Regions from separate parts of the Homo sapiens genome. Here all the other regions are reported to be linked to region 1. The links are microRNA targets in miRTarBase. Many come from high-throughput screens and were not tested one by one. Region 1 holds a microRNA gene; each other region holds the end of a gene's coding sequence.

The links. Region 1 holds the annotated microRNA hsa-miR-5008-5p (UGAGGCCCUUGGGGCACAGUGG, at 1,459-1,480, shown strand). A microRNA usually pairs through its seed, bases 2 to 8, with sites in the 3' UTR of a target mRNA and lowers its output. Matches are read on the target gene's strand: a 7mer-m8 pairs with bases 2 to 8, a 7mer-A1 pairs with bases 2 to 7 and ends in A, and an 8mer does both.
Region 2: miRTarBase lists CARD10 as a target of hsa-miR-5008-5p. Seed matches in the 3' UTR shown: 7mer-m8 at 3,486-3,492.
Region 3: the mRNA of RGL2 is a reported target of hsa-miR-5008-5p. The part of its 3' UTR that is shown has no 7-base or 8-base seed match.
Region 4: miRTarBase lists UNC93B1 as a target of hsa-miR-5008-5p. Seed matches in the 3' UTR shown: 7mer-A1 at 3,869-3,875.

Annotation. Positions count from the first base shown.
Region 1 is chr1:227,939,121-227,943,120 of GRCh38, reverse strand. It overlaps MIR5008 (microRNA 5008), which reads left to right and starts at 1,438; the gene lies at 1,438-1,531. All of the region lies in intron 1 of WNT9A (Wnt family member 9A), which reads left to right. RefSeq lists an enhancer at 89-991.
Region 2 is chr22:37,487,453-37,491,660 of GRCh38, forward strand. It overlaps CARD10 (caspase recruitment domain family member 10), which reads right to left. Exons shown (of 20, transcript NM_014550.4): 20 at 2,910-3,941. The coding sequence ends at 3,707. Among named protein-coding and RNA genes, the nearest start is that of MFNG, 3.2 kb to the left of the region's middle. RefSeq lists an enhancer at 1-334.
Region 3 is chr6:33,288,522-33,292,729 of GRCh38, reverse strand. It overlaps RGL2 (ral guanine nucleotide dissociation stimulator like 2), which reads left to right. Exons shown (of 18, transcript NM_004761.5): 17 at 186-300; 18 at 417-1,076. The coding sequence ends at 628. It overlaps WDR46 (WD repeat domain 46), which reads left to right and starts at 3,491. Exons shown (of 15, transcript NM_005452.6): 1 at 3,491-3,628; 2 at 3,717-3,926; 3 at 4,036-4,116. The coding sequence starts at 3,560. PFDN6 (prefoldin subunit 6) reads right to left here and starts at 3,129. Exons shown (of 4, transcript NM_001185181.3): 1 at 2,810-3,129; 2 at 2,486-2,556; 3 at 2,280-2,404; 4 at 1,797-2,014. The coding sequence starts at 2,873. The coding sequence ends at 1,885. MIR6834 (microRNA 6834) reads right to left here and starts at 2,485; the gene lies at 2,405-2,485. RefSeq lists an enhancer at 3,363-3,896.
Region 4 is chr11:67,987,632-67,991,839 of GRCh38, forward strand. UNC93B1 (unc-93B1 regulator of TLR signaling) reads right to left here. Exons shown (of 11, transcript NM_030930.4): 11 at 3,469-4,208. The coding sequence ends at 3,915. Among named protein-coding and RNA genes, the nearest start is that of UNC93B1, 14 kb to the right of the region's middle. RefSeq lists an enhancer at 3,601-4,206.

The DNA of each region.
Region 1 (4,000 bases):
GCCAACATCAGACCCCGCAGGGTCCAAGAGGGAGGCTGCTGGCTGTGGGCAGGACATACCCTGCCTGGTCCCATGGCTCTGCCTCTCTGTGCATCAGGCCTGGGGCACAGCTGGCTGCCTGGATGAGGGGCACCTGTGGGTCCCTGGCAGGGCCGGAGAAGGAGGGGTGGGCCTGAGGTGTGGAATCATGGGGCTGTGTGCTGGGCAAGAGAAGCCTGGGAAGGAGCTGGCAAGAAGGCGGCATCTGGGGTGACCCCATGGCTGGGGCCTGGGTCGGGTGCTCTGAGCACTGTGGGCCGGGGGGTTTGGGAGCAGCTGAGAGCTCAGGCTTAGGTTTGGGCAGGCACTGTCCTGGAGACCCACCCCCTCCAACAACTTAGGACACCCCAGGAAGCATGTGGGGCCTGGCATCAGGAAGAAAGGCCACACAGAGTGCTCTGGAGGGCCAGAAGGGCAGGGAGGAAAGGGGCCAGGGAGCTGCCTTGTTTCGAGAGATCGTGGAAGTGGCTCAGTGGGGCAGACCTCAGCAGAGGGCTGAGAGGAGGGGCCCTGGGGGCCAGGGGACTCCCTGGGGACTTCTTAGCATGGAGAGGAGAGGACAGGGCCAGTGGAAAGTCGGGGCATTTCTCCAGGACTCCTGGACTGGGACCCCGTGGCCAGTAGAGGGACCCAGGTGCTTGGCTTCCCTGACAGTGGGGCCGTAAGTGGGAGGGTCTGGAGTGTCAGCCTGATGGCCCCTGCAGGCGCTGGTGGCCTTCCTCCTTCCTGCTCTGCACCCAGGGGCCTTGGAACCCCCAGCCTCTCCCTGCCCCACCTGCTTGGGGGTCCTGGCTCCCTGGAGGGTGTGGAGGGTGTGTGGTAAGGACGGAGCAGCAGTGCCTGGCCTGCCACAGCTGAGGGAGCAGATGTCCTGTCCACAGCCGGCGGACGTCTGGTTGGGGAGACAGCTGGCCTCATCTTGCTCCCGCCCTGCTGCAGGCTGCAGAGGGCCCCAGTGCCTGCCCTGGCCTGGGACCTTCCGCCGGCTGCTGGGGTGGCCCGGGCTGGGGGTGCCCTGCTCTGGGGTTTGGCCATCAAAGAAGCGTGTGGGTGACTCTTCCCCTAGGAAAGAGCACACAGGCACGGATACCTCCTGGAGGCTCTGGACCCTGGGGCAGGGAGGAGGTGATGCCTGTGGGAGGGTGGGGGCTGCGGGAAAGCGACACCTGTTGACAGGCCTCGGTCGCGCCACCTGATCCCAGCTGCGGCACGGGCTCCCTTTGTGCATTGTGCTGGGCGGCGGGGTCAGGACCGGTGCAGTTGTCTGGGACCAGGGTGGCTCCCGCAGCAGTGTCTGTGGGACTGGGGACTGAGCCAGGCCCCCAGAACCCAGAAGGCCAGCCACGAGTGGGGGTTCCCCAGACCCCATGCCTTCTGGCTGGAAGTTGACCTCTGATGGGGCTGACCCCTAGGGTCAGGTGAGGCCCTTGGGGCACAGTGGTGCCATCTCCCCTGTGCTCCCAGGGCCTCGCCTGTCCCTTGAGGTCGGCCCCAGCTGCTGCTTCTTGCAGGAAGCCCAGTGACTGCCCAGATGCCTCCTTCTCTCCCTGCATGCTCAACTCTGGGGTTTGCCAGGAGGGTCCCCATGGAGTCTCCTCAGATGCATCCTTCTCTCCCTGGTTGCTCAACTCTGGGGTCAGCCAGGAGGGTTCCCGTGGGGTCTCTTCAGATGCATTCTATTCTCCCTGGTCGCTCAACTCTGGGATCAGCCAGGAGGGTCCCCTTGTGTTCTCCTCAGATGCATCCTTCTCTCCCTGGTCGCTCAATTCTGGGATTGGCCAGAAGGGTCCCTGTGGGGTCTTCTCCAAGCTGCATTCTGTGTGCCCTCCTATCCCAAGACTCCCTCAAGCCTGAGGCTCTCCCTGCCAGGTGGATCTGTGTCACTCATTCACCTGGCAGCCCAGCCCCGGGTCCTACAGGACTCTGACTCTGGCAGGGCTGTGTCTACACTTGTGGCCAGACGTAGTGCAGTGCAGACCTGGCTGCCAGGCTGCCGCACCTTCCCGTGTGTGGACGATAGGCCAGGTGTTGATGGCCCCACCAGAGCAGCCATGCAGAGTGCAGCCCCGGCGGGGACGTGACCCTGGTTTTCCTTCAGGGGTCATATTCAAGCACATCCGTGGTCCAGGCCGGGCAGGGTGGCAGGTGGCTGGGGATGGTCTTGCTGTGCCTGCTGACCTGGGTGGCACTGGGCCGCCCCGGCCCCGTGACCTGCAGCCTGGGCCCTCCCAGGAGCCTGTTGCCCTCCCGGCATGGTCCTGGCTGGCTGGGCGCCGCTGCCCGCCAGAGGAAGCCCAGCTGTCCAGCTGGCAGTTGCAGCACCTCAGGACCAGTGGCCGGATGGGACGATGGAAAAAGGCAAGCCGCAGGCTGCATTTGTTTTTTTTAGCGATACCTGAGGTCAGTGCAGCCAGGGGAAGTGGGCTGGAGGTCTGGCCCAGGAGGAGCTGCTGCCAGAGCCTCCCAGAGCTGGAGAACGTCAGGGCCGGCGTCCCTCCTGGCCAGATGGGGACAGAGGCTGCAGACCTGGAGTCACTGTGGGGTGGGGAGGGGAGCCAGGTGGACTTTGGGATGCTCCCTCTGTGACACCTACAGGAGAGTGAGCTCCAGAAGGGATGACAGTGTGGGAGGTGACACTGGTGGCCACTGGAAGGTTGCGTGGCTCTCCCTGTCCTGCTGACCAGTTGTGTGGGTCTGCGGCTGTCTGGGAAGGCCATGGGGGGCTGTGGTCACTGAGCACAGAGGCCTCCTGGAAGCTTCTGCTCTTCACCTTTCCCCCGGGGGGTCCTGCGTGCAGCCTTGGTTGCCTGTCTTGCAGCCCACAGACCAGCCATGCCCCTTCTGGGGTCCAGGACCCTGCCCCAGAAAAGGGCAGTCAGCCCAAGTAGCCTGGGGGAGCTGGGCTGGCCTCTGTGGTCTGGTTTGGGGGACCCCATGGATGCTGCAGACACAGACAGGGCAGGGCTTATTCCAGGGGCTGCCATGGGACACGGTGCTTTCAGCAGGGTGGAGGGGGGTGTTTCTCTCAGGCCCGAGGATGCTTCACCTGGCAGGCACCTGGGCATCTGCACAGGCCACCCGTGCCATCCTTGCGGCATGTGCCCCACCTCCTGGGTGCAGCTGGGCCCTGGTGGCGTTGCAGCCCTGAGGGACACAGCAGACGTGCTTGGGCTGGAAGCTGGGCTCGGGCTGGGTTGATTTGCAGACCACGGGGAGGGTGGAGAGTTGATCTCAGCCCCGGTTTCTCAGTGCTAGAATTTGTTTTGATTTTGTTTCACACAGAAATTAAACGCTGTCTGGCAGGACTGAGGTTTTGCTGGCGGGGTGTTGTGGCTTCTGGAACTGCAGTCTCTTCTCCCTCTGCCCCAGCCTGGGGGAGAAAGCTGGGTCCCGGTCAGGGTGGCTAGACCTGCTGGCAGGAGGCAGGAAGGTCGGAGTCCGGCCTTGGTGATGTGTGCTCCCTCCGTAGGACTTCCTGTCTATTGTGCTGGGAGCTGGAAGGAGCCTGTGGCTTTAGGGACCTGGCAGTGTGGGGTGGCTGTCCCTGTGTGTTTCAGGTTCTCTCTGGGGACAAGGCCCGTTTAGCTGCCCTCAGGCTCAGGGCAAGGTGTCTTGAGTGGGTCCTCCCAGGGTGGCCCAATCCCCAAGCAGCCAGGACATGGCAGCATCAGGCCTAGCCAGAGGAGCGGGGGGCCGTCCCCAGACTCAGCACCATGTGTGCTAAGCTCCACTCCTGTGGGGCTGGGGAATGGTCTCCACGGAGCTTCTGCAGGGGTCAGTGCTGACCACCGCGGCCAGCTTCCAGGGCTCAAGGAGGCGACCGGGTCACCGCTCCCTGGAGCCACCTCCCCCGTGGTTCCTGAGACCAGCACTGTCTGCGGCCCCATCTGCAGCGTGGAACTGTTCTGTGTGCCCTGTGGCATGGCAGCCGCAGCCACGTATGGGTGTTGAGACGTCTTCC
Region 2 (4,208 bases), not on the chromosome of region 1:
CCTTCCCTGACCACGTTATTAACATTGCAACCCCTCGCCGCCTCCTTCCCAGCCCCCCAGGCCTGTCCCTCTCAAGCCACTTCACTGTTTTCTTCATCACACTTTTCATCTTCCAACATTCTGTATGTTTAACTAAGTTTCTGTCCTCCTCATGAGAATATCAGGGCAGGATTTATTTTTTGATCACTGAGTCCCTAATCCCCAGTGCCTAGAACAGTGACCGGCAGACAAGAACTCAATCAATGTTAATTCAACACAACAAAGTACCAGGTGGCTGGCAAAGGGAAGTGGCCCTGCCGGGCTCAACCCTGCATGAGGACAGCTGGGGGAGAGGAAGGGAAAACCAACCCTTTGAATGACCTTCTCATGGGCCAGCCCCCAGCCAGGCCCCTTCACAGGCCATATTCTCAGAATGGTGATGATGCCAGCCTTGGTGATGATCCCAGACTCTGTACCCCACAGACCAGGTTTAAATCCTGACTGGGGGCTGGGCGCCATGGCTCACGCCTGTACTCCCAGCACTTTGGGAGGCCAAGGCAGGCAGATCACTTGAGGTCAGGAGTTCAAGACCAGCCTGGCCAACATGGTGAAACCCCGTCTCTACCAAAAATACAAAAATTAGCTAGGCATTGTGGCAGGCACCTGTAATCCCAGCTACTAGGGAGGCTGAGGCAGGAGAATCACTTGAACCCGGGAGGCAGAGGTTGCAGTGAGCCGAGATGGCGCCATTGCACTCCAGCCTAGGCAACAAGAGTGAAACTCCATCTCAAAAAAAAAAATTCCCAACTGGGCCACTCACTGGCTGTATGACTCTAGGAAAGTTACCTTCATCATTTCTAAAATGGGGACAAAAATATGACTTGGTGACGATTACAGGATGAGTGGGCTTCTCCACCCCACAGAAAGGATGCTTGACACGGGGAACAGGCAAAGGCAGCCAAGTCACAGGCCCCTGCCTTTCCCCAGGCCAAGCACTGGGCCAGGCTCACTGTGGGGCAGGGGGAGGTTCATGTACCCAAATGCACACAGCCCAGTTTCCATGCCCAGGAAGCCACAGACATCGAGAGACAGCCACACAGACACCCTCGTCCCACCACAAGGCAGAATATGGCATGGGCCAGGAGAAGTCCCAAGGGCTGGGAGGACCTGGTGGTGGGTTTCATGGAGATACGTAATATCTCAGCCAGGCTTCAAAGATCAGGAAGATTCAGGCAGGGAGAGCAGCCCAGGCAGGGGCCACATGAGCAGAGGAGCACAGCTAAGGGTAAACTGAAAGGCCACTGCCACTGCCCGCGGTGGGGAGGATGTGGCTGGGGGGATGGGAGAGTCAACACCTGGGAAGGCCTGGAGTAGAAAGCGGCATTGCCGCTGATTCCCATGCAGGGAGGCTGCCCTTCCCCCAGGGCACCGCCTTTGCCACTCAGGGTCCAGCTCCCCAGCCCCTACCCCAGTGGTGACAGACTGGCAGGCCTCCAAGTCCAATCTGCACCTTGTCAAAGACACCCTGTCGTAGAGAGTGGGAAGACCTTTTCCCAAGCAATGGCTCAGCCCCAGCCACACGTGCTCACCTAGCCGTGGCCAATCCGTACCTCCATGCTCACTCCACCATCCGGGCCTCCACTCCACAGGGGAGGGCCCTGGGCCCAGAGAGGCCACCCGAGTTGCCAGGGTCTCCTGGCTGACCAGAGCTTTGGGTTTCAACCAAACTACAGTGCCCTGCGCACCCTGCACTCCATCCTGGGAAAGCCTCTCTGGGTTCCCGGGACAGCCTGGGCCCACCGTCCACCCTGGCCTCATACCCAAGCACCGTCATCCTGCGTGGTCCAGTCTCTGAGACCCTCACCACCTCTCCCCTACACCCACTCCTTGTCTCTTCCCACTAAAGATGGGGCTGTGGCCCCCTGATCCACACCCCAATCCCCTCTCCCAGCTTCTCCATTCCCTTCTCCACCCACCACCCCAAATCCCCAGCCCTGACCCCTTCTTAAGCATTTTTCTTGTCAAACATGGAGATCCAGACCCACCCCTGGAGGCCACAGATCCCCTCCTTCCTGTCTGCTCCTCTCTCCTCCACTGCCCCTGCCCCCCACCCCCTACTCCAATTGGCCTCAGCCCTCTCTAAGTCAACTCCAAACCAGAGCTCCCATAGCCCTGCTCCCACATCCTGAGAGGCTCCCACAGCCTCCAGGGCACAGCCCAAGCTCCTTTGCGCTCCCAACCCCACCCCTGGACTTGCCCTTCCCAACCTCATTTCCGACCCCATCCAAGGTGGCCAGATCCAACCCATGTGCTGCCTCTGAGCTTTCGCCCTTGAGGCTACCCTACCTAGTTAGTACACCCACAACCCCAAGCCCCAGGGACCTGCCCAGCCTCATCACTGTGGCTGAGGACAGTCACCTGCACTTGGACACGTAGGTCCAATAAGTGGTTCCTGAAGAAAGGAATCCCAACTCCCAAGCTCAAGTGGCACTTCTTCCAGTAAGGCTGCCTGGATTGCTCCCAGTGGGAGCAACCATCCTCTCTCCAGTAGAGCTGTCTCAGGAACCTGCGTGCATACCAAGGGTTTGCTCTTGAGCTCCTGGGCTCAGCAGCCAGGCCCCTTCAGTCGGAGGCCACACCCTGCCAGTTTTGGTGCCCTGCTCCAGGGGACACTCCTCTGATGATCAGCTGTGGGCAGGGCTGAGCGTTGGGGTGGCCCATCTGTGGGGCCCTCCTCTGGTCATTCAGGGGCAGGTAAGGTGACGCCAGCACAGATGGCGGGCGGCTCTGGGAAGAGGCAGGCGGGAAATCCGACCCTCCTGACAGGCAAGCGGGGACCTGAAAGGTGGTATCCGCCTGAGCTGGGAGACAAATGAGGAGAGTGATGGGGACCCAGGCCAGGGATACAAGCAAGCAGAAGGCCACCAGCATCTATGACAAAAGTGTTTAATGCTCCATAATGTGCAGCTTCTAAGTGAAAAAGGCCCGTTAATCATCCACGGGCCGTACATTCTCATGACAGAGCAGCCGCCCTCCTCGGCCCCCCAAGAGGGAGGCATAGGCAGGGAGTGGGCCCTGTGAGGCACGGTCCTGAGTGTGCCCGCCAGGAACGCACACGTGTTAGTGCCCACATGAAACAGGGGTGGGGCGTGACATTTACACAGGAGAGAACCACAGACACCCATGTGAGGAGACACGAGGGGCACAGGTGACCATGGGCCAGGGAACACCCCAGTCCATGCATGGCTGAATCCACGAGGAGCGCGAGCTGGATGGTGGGAGTCACGCGGTAACGGGCTCAGGTCTCCTAGGAGCAGAACAGGCCCAGGTCCTCAGGAGACCTCGTGCCCAGGGCAGCGGGACAGACCTGAGCCTGCCCATGAGAACTTGAGTGTGCAAACCTGCGCACAGGTGTGAGAACAGACTCCAGGGCGAGTGTTTAAGGAGAAGACACAGACACACATAAGACCCACTAGTGGGAATGTGGAGACCCCAGGAAAGGTGGGGAGGCCCAGAGCAGCAAGTAGAGGGGAGTGGGCACTCTGTCCCGGGACTCCCATAGGCTCGGCAGGGCCAGAGACAGCCTTGGGGGTGAGAGGCCAGAGCCAAGGGCCCTGCATCTGAGAGTCCAAGGGTCTAGGAAGGCTCAGGGTGGGAGGGCCCAGCTTCACCATAGACACCAGGGTCCACGCTGGCTTGGGGAGAAGGTGCAGGTATCAGATGAGCCTCAGGCCTCACTGCTGCTGGGGCAGCCTCTGCTGCTGCCGCACTCCACCCACACGAGGCGGGCCTGCTCCTGCAGGATGCGGCCGCGCACCACCTTGGCCAGCTCCTCTGCGTGTCCCCACTCATGGGCGGGCACCTGCACCCAGGAGCAGGGCAGCCCCCAGAGCACCTGCTCTGAGCCACGGCACTGCCGCAGCAGCTCTGAGTCCCGCCAGCCCGGCCGGCCCAGCAGACCCCTGCCGAGAGAAGAGTGAGCAGCGGTCAAAGTGGGGGACCAAGACAGACAGAGAGACAGGGAGAGAGGGACAGACAAAGGGGGAAGAGTCAGAGAGAGAAGATGGACAACCAAAGAGAGACAGATGGCAGATGGAGATGGAGAGAGAGAGACAGAGAAGGGGAGGGAGAGACGGGGGAGGGAGGGGGGAGGGAGAGAGAGGGGGAGAAGGAGGGGGGAGGGGGAGGGAGAGAGGGGGAAGGAGAGAGAGGGGGAGGGAGAAAGAGGG
Region 3 (4,208 bases), not on the chromosome of region 1:
GCTCTGTTTCACTGGGCACCATGTGGGCTGGCTTATGGGGTATAGGAAGCCACCATATTGGGTTTTCCTGTTCATTTTAAAGCCTTGGACACAAGTAACATTTTGTGGTTGGGTTCAGTGGCTGAGGGTAGAAGGATGGGAAATCATGGCTGATTGATTGCTCTTTTGGTCTCCTGTTCTGCCAGGTGACAAGCCAGGACAAGGCTCCAAGTGTCATCAGTCGTGTCCTTAAGAAAAACAATCGTGACTCTGCAGTGGCTTCAGAGTATGAGCTGGTACAGCTGCTACCAGGGGAGCGAGGTCAGAGGCCATGAGGGAAAGGCAGACTCGGGAGGAGAGTGGAGTACTTCCACATCTGGGCGGCTGTGGGGGGAACAACTGTGTGTGTGCTTTACATCCATCCCCTGAACCTTCAGAGCTGACTATCCCAGCCTCGGCTAATGTATTCTACGCCATGGATGGAGCTTCACACGATTTCCTCCTGCGGCAGCGGCGAAGGTCCTCTACTGCTACACCTGGCGTCACCAGTGGCCCGTCTGCCTCAGGAACTCCTCCGAGTGAGGGAGGAGGGGGCTCCTTTCCCAGGATCAAGGCCACAGGGAGGAAGATTGCACGGGCACTGTTCTGAGGAGGAAGCCCCGTTGGCTTACAGAAGTCATGGTGTTCATACCAGATGTGGGTAGCCATCCTGAATGGTGGCAATTATATCACATTGAGACAGAAATTCAGAAAGGGAGCCAGCCACCCTGGGGCAGTGAAGTGCCACTGGTTTACCAGACAGCTGAGAAATCCAGCCCTGTGGGAACTGGTGTCTTATAACCAAGTTGGATACCTGTGTATAGCTTCCCACCTTCCATGAGTGCAGCACACAGGTAGTGCTGGAAAAACGCATCAGTTTCTGATTCTTGGCCATATCCTAACATGCAAGGGCCAAGCAAAGGCTTCAAGGCTCTGAGCCCCAGGGCAGAGGGGAATGGCAAAATGTAGGTCCTCGCAGGAGCTCTTCTTCCCACTCTGGGGGTTTCTATCACTGTGACAACACTAAGATAATAAACCAAAACACTACCTGAATTCTACTCCCCTGTCCTTGCAGTACATATGAACTGGCTGCTATGAGTGGGGGTGGGGAATTGGCTGAAGGTAGATGCCATGGAACAGGAAGGGGCACAATGTTTTCTGTCCCCATGAACAGAGCAAAAAGTGAGGTATTGGTGAAAAAAGTTTCCTCAGAACAGTTTCTCTCCAGTAACCTCTCTACCACTGGTCCCTTGCTGCAAATGTGTATAAAACAATTTTAGGACAAGGAAATGGCAGAACAACTTTATGGACAACATATAAACTTGGGAGGACTTATAATACCATAAAGCATTACATGCTGGGATTTTAAGTCAGTTTAAAGCTACATTCAAGCAAATTCTAGGAAGACAGAGGCTGAAAAGTACTAATAGAGATGCCAGGGCTGTTGGCAAGGAGGGTAACCACATTTCATCCTGGGGCCTCAGGTTAGAGAACTGTGTATTCTTTTTCAATTAAACCGACATTCCTAGCAATATGGTATGTTGCAAATGCCCTTCCAAAAGAATCATGCCAACCAAGATGAGGGAGAGTTAAGGGTTGTATATACAGGCAAGAAGTAGGTTTGAAGACATTTAGGATTTCACTTTCAAGAAAGAACACTGTGCCACAAAGAGATTCCAAGTGCAAGAGTTTGAACCTGAGGGGGTAATACAGGTGGTGTGTGTTAAGGTGGAAGGGGCTGTGGGGATATGACAGAAGTGCCTGGTCAGGAAACAGAGCCAGGTGTTTTTACATTTTATTAGCTACAGTATAGATCCTAGAGCTGCCTCATTCCCTCCCCTCCCCTCCCCTCCCCCCACCATGGGGTCAGGCCTTGCCAGGAGCCCCTGCCTTTGCTGCCTGGGCCCGCTGGAACTCCTGCTGCAGCTGAGCAAGGGTCTCCCTCTGTTGCTCTGACTGCCGCTCAAGATCCCGAAGCTGGGATTCGTATCGCTTACTAAGGAGAGACAAGGGAGACAAGCAGAAAGGGAGAAATTAGTAGGACTCACTATGGAGAGTGCTAAACGCAAGAAAGAGATAGGTGGAAAACTTGAGATCCAGGGGAGGGAGAAGAAGGGGGGTTAAAAGGGAAGGAAAGGGTTGGAGGAACTGGAGGACTAGGGGCCACTATGGAGAGCTGTTCTGCAATGGTTCAACACCTCTACTCCAATGGTTCACTTGCATCACAGGGTGCAGCACACGGTGGTGGAATAAAAACTCACATTTCAGCTGTGATATAGTCCAGCCTCTTCCCTACTGTGGCCCGAGCCTCCCCCAGCTCCTGTTTGACTAGCACCGGACCCAGAAGTTTAAAGACCACGTTGGACCCATCCAGCAGGGCCAGTTCCTGATGGAGGGATGGGACATATGTGATCAGAACCATGGCTAGTACAGGTCCCTCCTCGCCCCACAAATCCCAGTCCCTCACCTCTTTCACGATATTATTTTCTGTTAGTTGTGCTTCAAGTTTCTGCCTCCCCGACATGGATTTACTTAAGTCTGGGGATGAGAGGAAAGGCAATTTAGAAACATCAAATGTGCCACCTATCCCCACAATCCTAGTCAGGTGGATATGGATCTGAGGAAGCAGAAAAGGATGGGGGCAGCGGGTGAGTGAACAGGGAAGAGTACTGAGACTGAGGCGGGGAAGTCTCTGCACGCGAGGGCCCAGATGGGGCAACAAACCTTATCTCGGTAATGGCTTTGGGTTGTAAGTGCATTGGGCGAGACCATACCGACCCTGTTCCCTTACCCTTCTGTAGCTGTTGATATTTCTCCACTTCTCCCTGTAGCTTCTTCTGGATCAGCTCCGCCATGGCGGGGATGAAAGCCTACTGGGTGCGAGACAAGGGCGCTGGGTCTCACTCTCTGGAAGGTACCTGAGCTCCCTTTTCTGATCTGGCCTGCGGAAATGATAGCACTCTTGAGAGGTAGCCCTGAGGGGCACCGCAACCTCCCCCCCGTCCCGGATATCGACTCCACCCTGTCCCCAGGAGATGGTGGGCGAAACGCAAGACCCCAAGCCTCTCAACCGAAATCCTAACCTACTCACGTTCTTCCTTCAGTAGTAATAAACCCGGAAGTAAACAAGGAATGCTGGGAAAAGACTGTGCCGGAAGTTTCTTTCTGACCCTTGATGGGAAGTGTAGTTCTGACATGTTTAGGGAGTGGAGTTCTGCTAAAAAGACTAGACTAGGACATTTTTAGGCAAGATGGGGAAACTAATCCAGAAAAAGAAACCGCACCGCTACTTAGCCCCTGGCTCCGGACCTGCCTTTCTTTTTTAAATCACTCTTGCATAAGCTGCCGCTCGCGATAAGGTGCCAAAAACTGTTCCGCCCCTCTAAGGAGAGCGTGCCCTCACTCAAGATGGCACCTAGAGAGCTTCATACCTGGTACGCTGCTGATTGGATGAAGGACAGAGGGCTTCCGGGAGTTTTCAAGCCGACTGTGTGGCAGCTGAGAGGAGTTTTGCACGTGGATCGCCGTTCGGGTGGGCGAGATGGAGACAGCCCCCAAGCCGGGCAAGGATGTCCCGCCCAAGAAAGACAAACTTCAGACCAAGAGAAAGGTAGAGGCCTCCCTGGGTGGGAAACGAAGTTTTTAGCTGTGGGGTCGGGGGGCGGGGCGTGAGTGCGGAGTTCCTGATGTGCCTGTAGAAACCGCGGCGATACTGGGAGGAAGAGACCGTTCCGACCACAGCCGGAGCCTCTCCAGGGCCTCCTCGTAACAAGAAGAATCGGGAGCTCCGTCCTCAGAGACCAAAAAATGCTTACATCTTAAAGAAGTCTCGGATCTCTAAGAAGCCTCAGGTCCCGAAGAAACCCCGAGAATGGAAGAACCCGGAGTCCCAGCGCGGCTTGTCCGGGGTGAGCGTGGGACCTGATGGGTGGCGAGGCAGGCCGCCTCGTTCCTTGAGAGTGAGAGGGTTGGGGTCAATCCAAGGCTGTCTGCTAATTGCGTCCTCCTTTCCCCTAGACCCAAGATCCATTCCCAGGCCCCGCCCCCGTCCCTGTGGAAGTGGTCCAGAAGTTCTGTCGCATTGACAAATCCCGAAAGGTGAGGTCCAGCCGGAGAGTTGGGAAGTGCTGGAGGCAGGGAGTGTCTGGGTGAGTTGGATGGAGGCTGGGACAGGTAGCTCTCCTGTGACC
Region 4 (4,208 bases), not on the chromosome of region 1:
CCCAGGCTGGAGTGCAGTGGCGCAGTCTCAGCTCACTGCAACCTCTGCCTCCCAGGTTCAAGCTATTCTCCTGCCTCAGCCTCCAGAGTAGCTGGGATTACAGGCACACGAGGCTTGGCTAATTTTTTGTATTTTTAGTGGAGACGGGGTTTCACCATGTTGGCCAGGCTGGTCTCGAACTCCTGACCTCAGGTGATTCACCTGCCTCAGCCTCCTGAAGTGCTGGGATTACAGGCGTGAGCCACCACTCCCGGCCCAAAGCAACTTTTTAGTGTTAATTTCTCAACTCTGGCATTCCTAGACCACACAGGTGGCATGACTTTATTGTAGGAGTTCCACATTTACATAAGAGAGGCCTGAAAACGCAACGATCTCATGGGAAACTTGTTCACCACCTAAAGCTCAAAATTTCTCACCTCTCTCTGTTCCCCTGGGTGGAAATGTTTCTGTCCCTTTCTCTAAAGGTGTTGCATTTCTGTGGCCCCAACTTCATCATGCTTGACTGTAACCCTAACCCCCTGCCTTGTAAGGGATACCAACGCTCAACCCAGCCCTGCCCTCAGGCAGTTGCAGCACCAGCTCCTCTGTCCCCACCTTGGTTCTCACTCTCCTCTTCACTTCTGGCCTTAGGGGACTTAACTTATTTTCTGAAGAACTCAGCTATATATTTATTTTATTTTATTTATATATTTTTTGAGATGGAGTTTCACTCTTTTGCCCAGGCTAGAGTGTAATGGCGTGATCTTGGCTCACTGCAACTTCTGCCTTCCGGGTTTAAGCGATTCTCCTGCTTCAGCCTCCTAAGTAGCTGAGATTACAAGCGCCTGCCACCACTCCTGGCTGATTTTTGTATTTTTAGTAGAGATGGGGTTTCACCATTGGCCAGGCTGGTCTTGAACTCCTGGCCTCAGGTGATCCGCCTGCCTCAGCCTCCCAAAGTGCTGGAATTACAGGCGTGAGCCACCACGCCCGGCCTCAGCTCTATAGTTAAAAGGACATTTGTTTCTTACCCAGCATTTCTAGGTGTTTTGAAGAGGGAGACTTCTCAGGTTATCTAACCTGCTACTGAGAACTTAAAGATAGGGAAAATCTTGGACTGGAGATTCTTGGAATCACATAATTGAAAAATCCCAGCTGGGCGTGATGGCTCACGTCTATAATCCCAGCACTTTGGGATGCCGAGGCAGGTGGATCACCTGAGGTCAGGAGTTTGAGACCAGGTTGGCCAACATGGTGAAACTTCGTCTCTACTAAAAATACAAAAAAAAAATTGCCTGGCTTGGTGGTGGGCGCCTGTAATCCCCGCTACTCGGGAAGCTGAGGTAGGAGAATCGCTGGAACCCAGGAGATGGAGGTTGCAGTGAGCTGAGATCATGCCATTGCACTCCAGCCTGGGCAACAAGAGTGAAACTCCGTTGCAAAAAAAAAAAAAAAAAGAAAAGAAAAGAAAAGAGAAAGAAAAAGAAAAATCCCCACAGTGCAGATCGACAAAATCACAGAGTTGCTTTGGGAGCGAGGGTGGCAATCAGACACGGAGGCCATGACACAACCTGCTTATCCACTCAGGGGTCCAGAACCTCCACCCAGTCACCTTATCCGGGGGTGATGGAGACAGGGGAGGTGCCACCTACGCCAGTGTCATCTCTTACAATGAGCTCTTCTCCTGCTCGAAAAGAGCCAGCCTGCTGAGCTTGCTGCCAGGGCCCGTCGCACTGCCTGCGCTGTGTTGCCCGTCGCACAGCCTGTGATATGTGTTTCCCATCATGTGTGCATGTGTGTTGTCATGTAGTGTCTGTCACAGGTGTTACCCGTCACGTGTGTTTGCATGTTGCATGTGTGTGGCCTATCAGGTGTAAATATGTGTTGTCTGGCACATGTCAGCATCTGGGCATTCTCCGTGTGCCAGGAGCAGCCAGGTGGCCTGTGAAGCCTTCTCATGGGAAATGCCCAGATAGGAAGAGCACAGCCAGGAGCCAAGCCCCTGAGTGGCCACTCCATGTGCCTGGATCACCTTCAAGTCTGCTCAACATCACAGCCTCTGTTCCTTGGCACCATGGACATTGGAATTGACTCGGAACTGGGAAGAGCTGTAGGCCCACTATCCAGGCACCTGCTCCCCGTTTGCCCAGCATCCCAGGGGCCCACACCCTTCCAAATATCACCTTGCCCTCCATTCAGAGGTGAATCATCTGAGCGTCAGGTTGCCCAACTCCGACTGGTTTTGCTGGAGCCTGCCTAGAGGATGTCGCCAGCCACCTCCAGAGAACACTCAGTCTACAGATGCCGAGGGGGAACTGGAAGCACACAGTGCTGGCCTTCACCCAGGTTATGGTGGCACCTCGGGACCGCTTCTGAGTCTGCTTGTCACTGAAGGTCGGCGTGAGGCAGGCAGCGTTCCCTCCCAGATTTAGAAAATGTCAAGTCTCCCGCCGCACCCTTTTGTGTTTCTTACAGGGCCTGGTGCGCTTGCTGCCGCCACACTAAGGGCTCCAACATGTTCCCTCACACACTCAACAGAGAAGGAACCTGTGGCTCAGATGGCAGACTCCCTGTCCAAGGCCACAGAGTCTGGCCCCAGGGACCACTAGAGGCTTCAAGAACCAAACTCACATGAGGGCAGAGAGGAGAGATGGGGCCAGTTTAGGGCTGGGAGAATCCATAGAGCGATGCTGAGGCAGGCATGGAGCCTGGAGGTACGGACGAGGGTCTCGCCAAAGTCAGGGGTAAAGAGGCTGTGGGGAGTGAGGAATGGTGTGGGCCAGCCCCGGGCCTGCTGGGGTGCAGCTGGGGGCTCCATGGCCCTCCCACGGCCCCCACTTGTCCTCACCCAACCGTTCAGAGCTCTTCATGGCGGGGGTGTCCTCTCCTCTGGCCACAAGAGGAGCGGGTGGAGGAACGGCACCTTCAGGCCTTGTAGGGGGTCTGCCCCTCCACCAGCCTGTTTCTCGTGGGCATCGCAGCTGAGGCTGTAGCCGGGAAAGGGTAGTCACCGAGCGTACCTGGCCTCCAACCACCACTTCCAAGGCCCCTACTGGGCACAGGGTGACCCCACCGTGGCTCGGAAGTGGACCCTGTCCGACGCGGGGGTGGTCGCTGGAGGGCGGAGGATGCCTACACAGGCCTCTGGAGGGTGTGTCTCGGGAGTCTGTCTCGCCCTCTGGACCCATGGGGGACCAGCAACGCCGTCACACCCTCCTCTGTCTCTGCCAGCCGCTCCGCCGCTCCCTTCTCCTGGCTGGGGCTGGCAAAGGCAGGCAGGTATGGGGGGGCGGGGCCTCAGGAGGGAGGAAGGGCTGGTGGGCGGGGCCTACGGACACCTCGCCCCGCCCCCAGTAGGGCGCGGCACTCCCCACACCACGCGGTCCCCCTAGGTCAGGGCCTGTCACCACTGCGCCCAGAGGCCGGGCCAGCCGTGCGTGCATCCCAGGGCATCCGTGCATCCGTCCCCCGCGGCCTGGGACTCCCCAGTCAGGACAGTACAAAATCTCTTTATTGCTCATTTTCTGTAAAAAATCGTGGCTCTCGGCGGACCCTGGGGATAGGAGGTGCAAAGTGCGCTCACACGCGGCCCGGGTCCGCGGCCGAGAGCTGTGGGGATCTGGAGCGGGCCGGGTCGCAAGAAGACCCTGACCGTGCTCCGGCGCTGGGGCGCGTGCTAAGGGCCCGCGGGGTTTCAGCTGTATTTTCGAACCCCTGTGCTTGGCCGAGGGGTTCCCAAGGCTCCACTCCGCCTTGGAGGGGGCTGCGGAAGCCCGGAGGTGACCTGGGCTCTGGGAGGGGCGTCCCCAACGTGGGGGAGGGGAGACAGGGGCCTTTGAAGACAGCGCGGGACTCGGAGGGGGTCCCCCCGACCTCAGACGTGGTAAACTGAGGCCGGCGAGGAGGGAGGCTGAGTCCGGGGACCAGGCGGCCCCTCACTGCTCCTCCGGCCCGTCTCCCCCCTGCGCCTGTTCGTACGGGCAGGGCCGGCGGCCGAGTCCAGCGGGCTCGGGGCCAGGCCTGGGCCCTGCGGGCGGCGCCTCCTCCTCCGCGCCGTCCCCATGCTCGCCCTCCGCGTCGCTCTCGTCCGAGTTGTCCTCCTCCAAGTAGCGGTAACCGCGCACCTTGTGCTGGGGCCGCGGGATGCGGGGCTGGCGCGGGGCCACGCCCCGGCGCAGCTTCTGCTCCATCCGCAGGTAGGAGACCGCGGCCGCCACCAGCGTCACCAG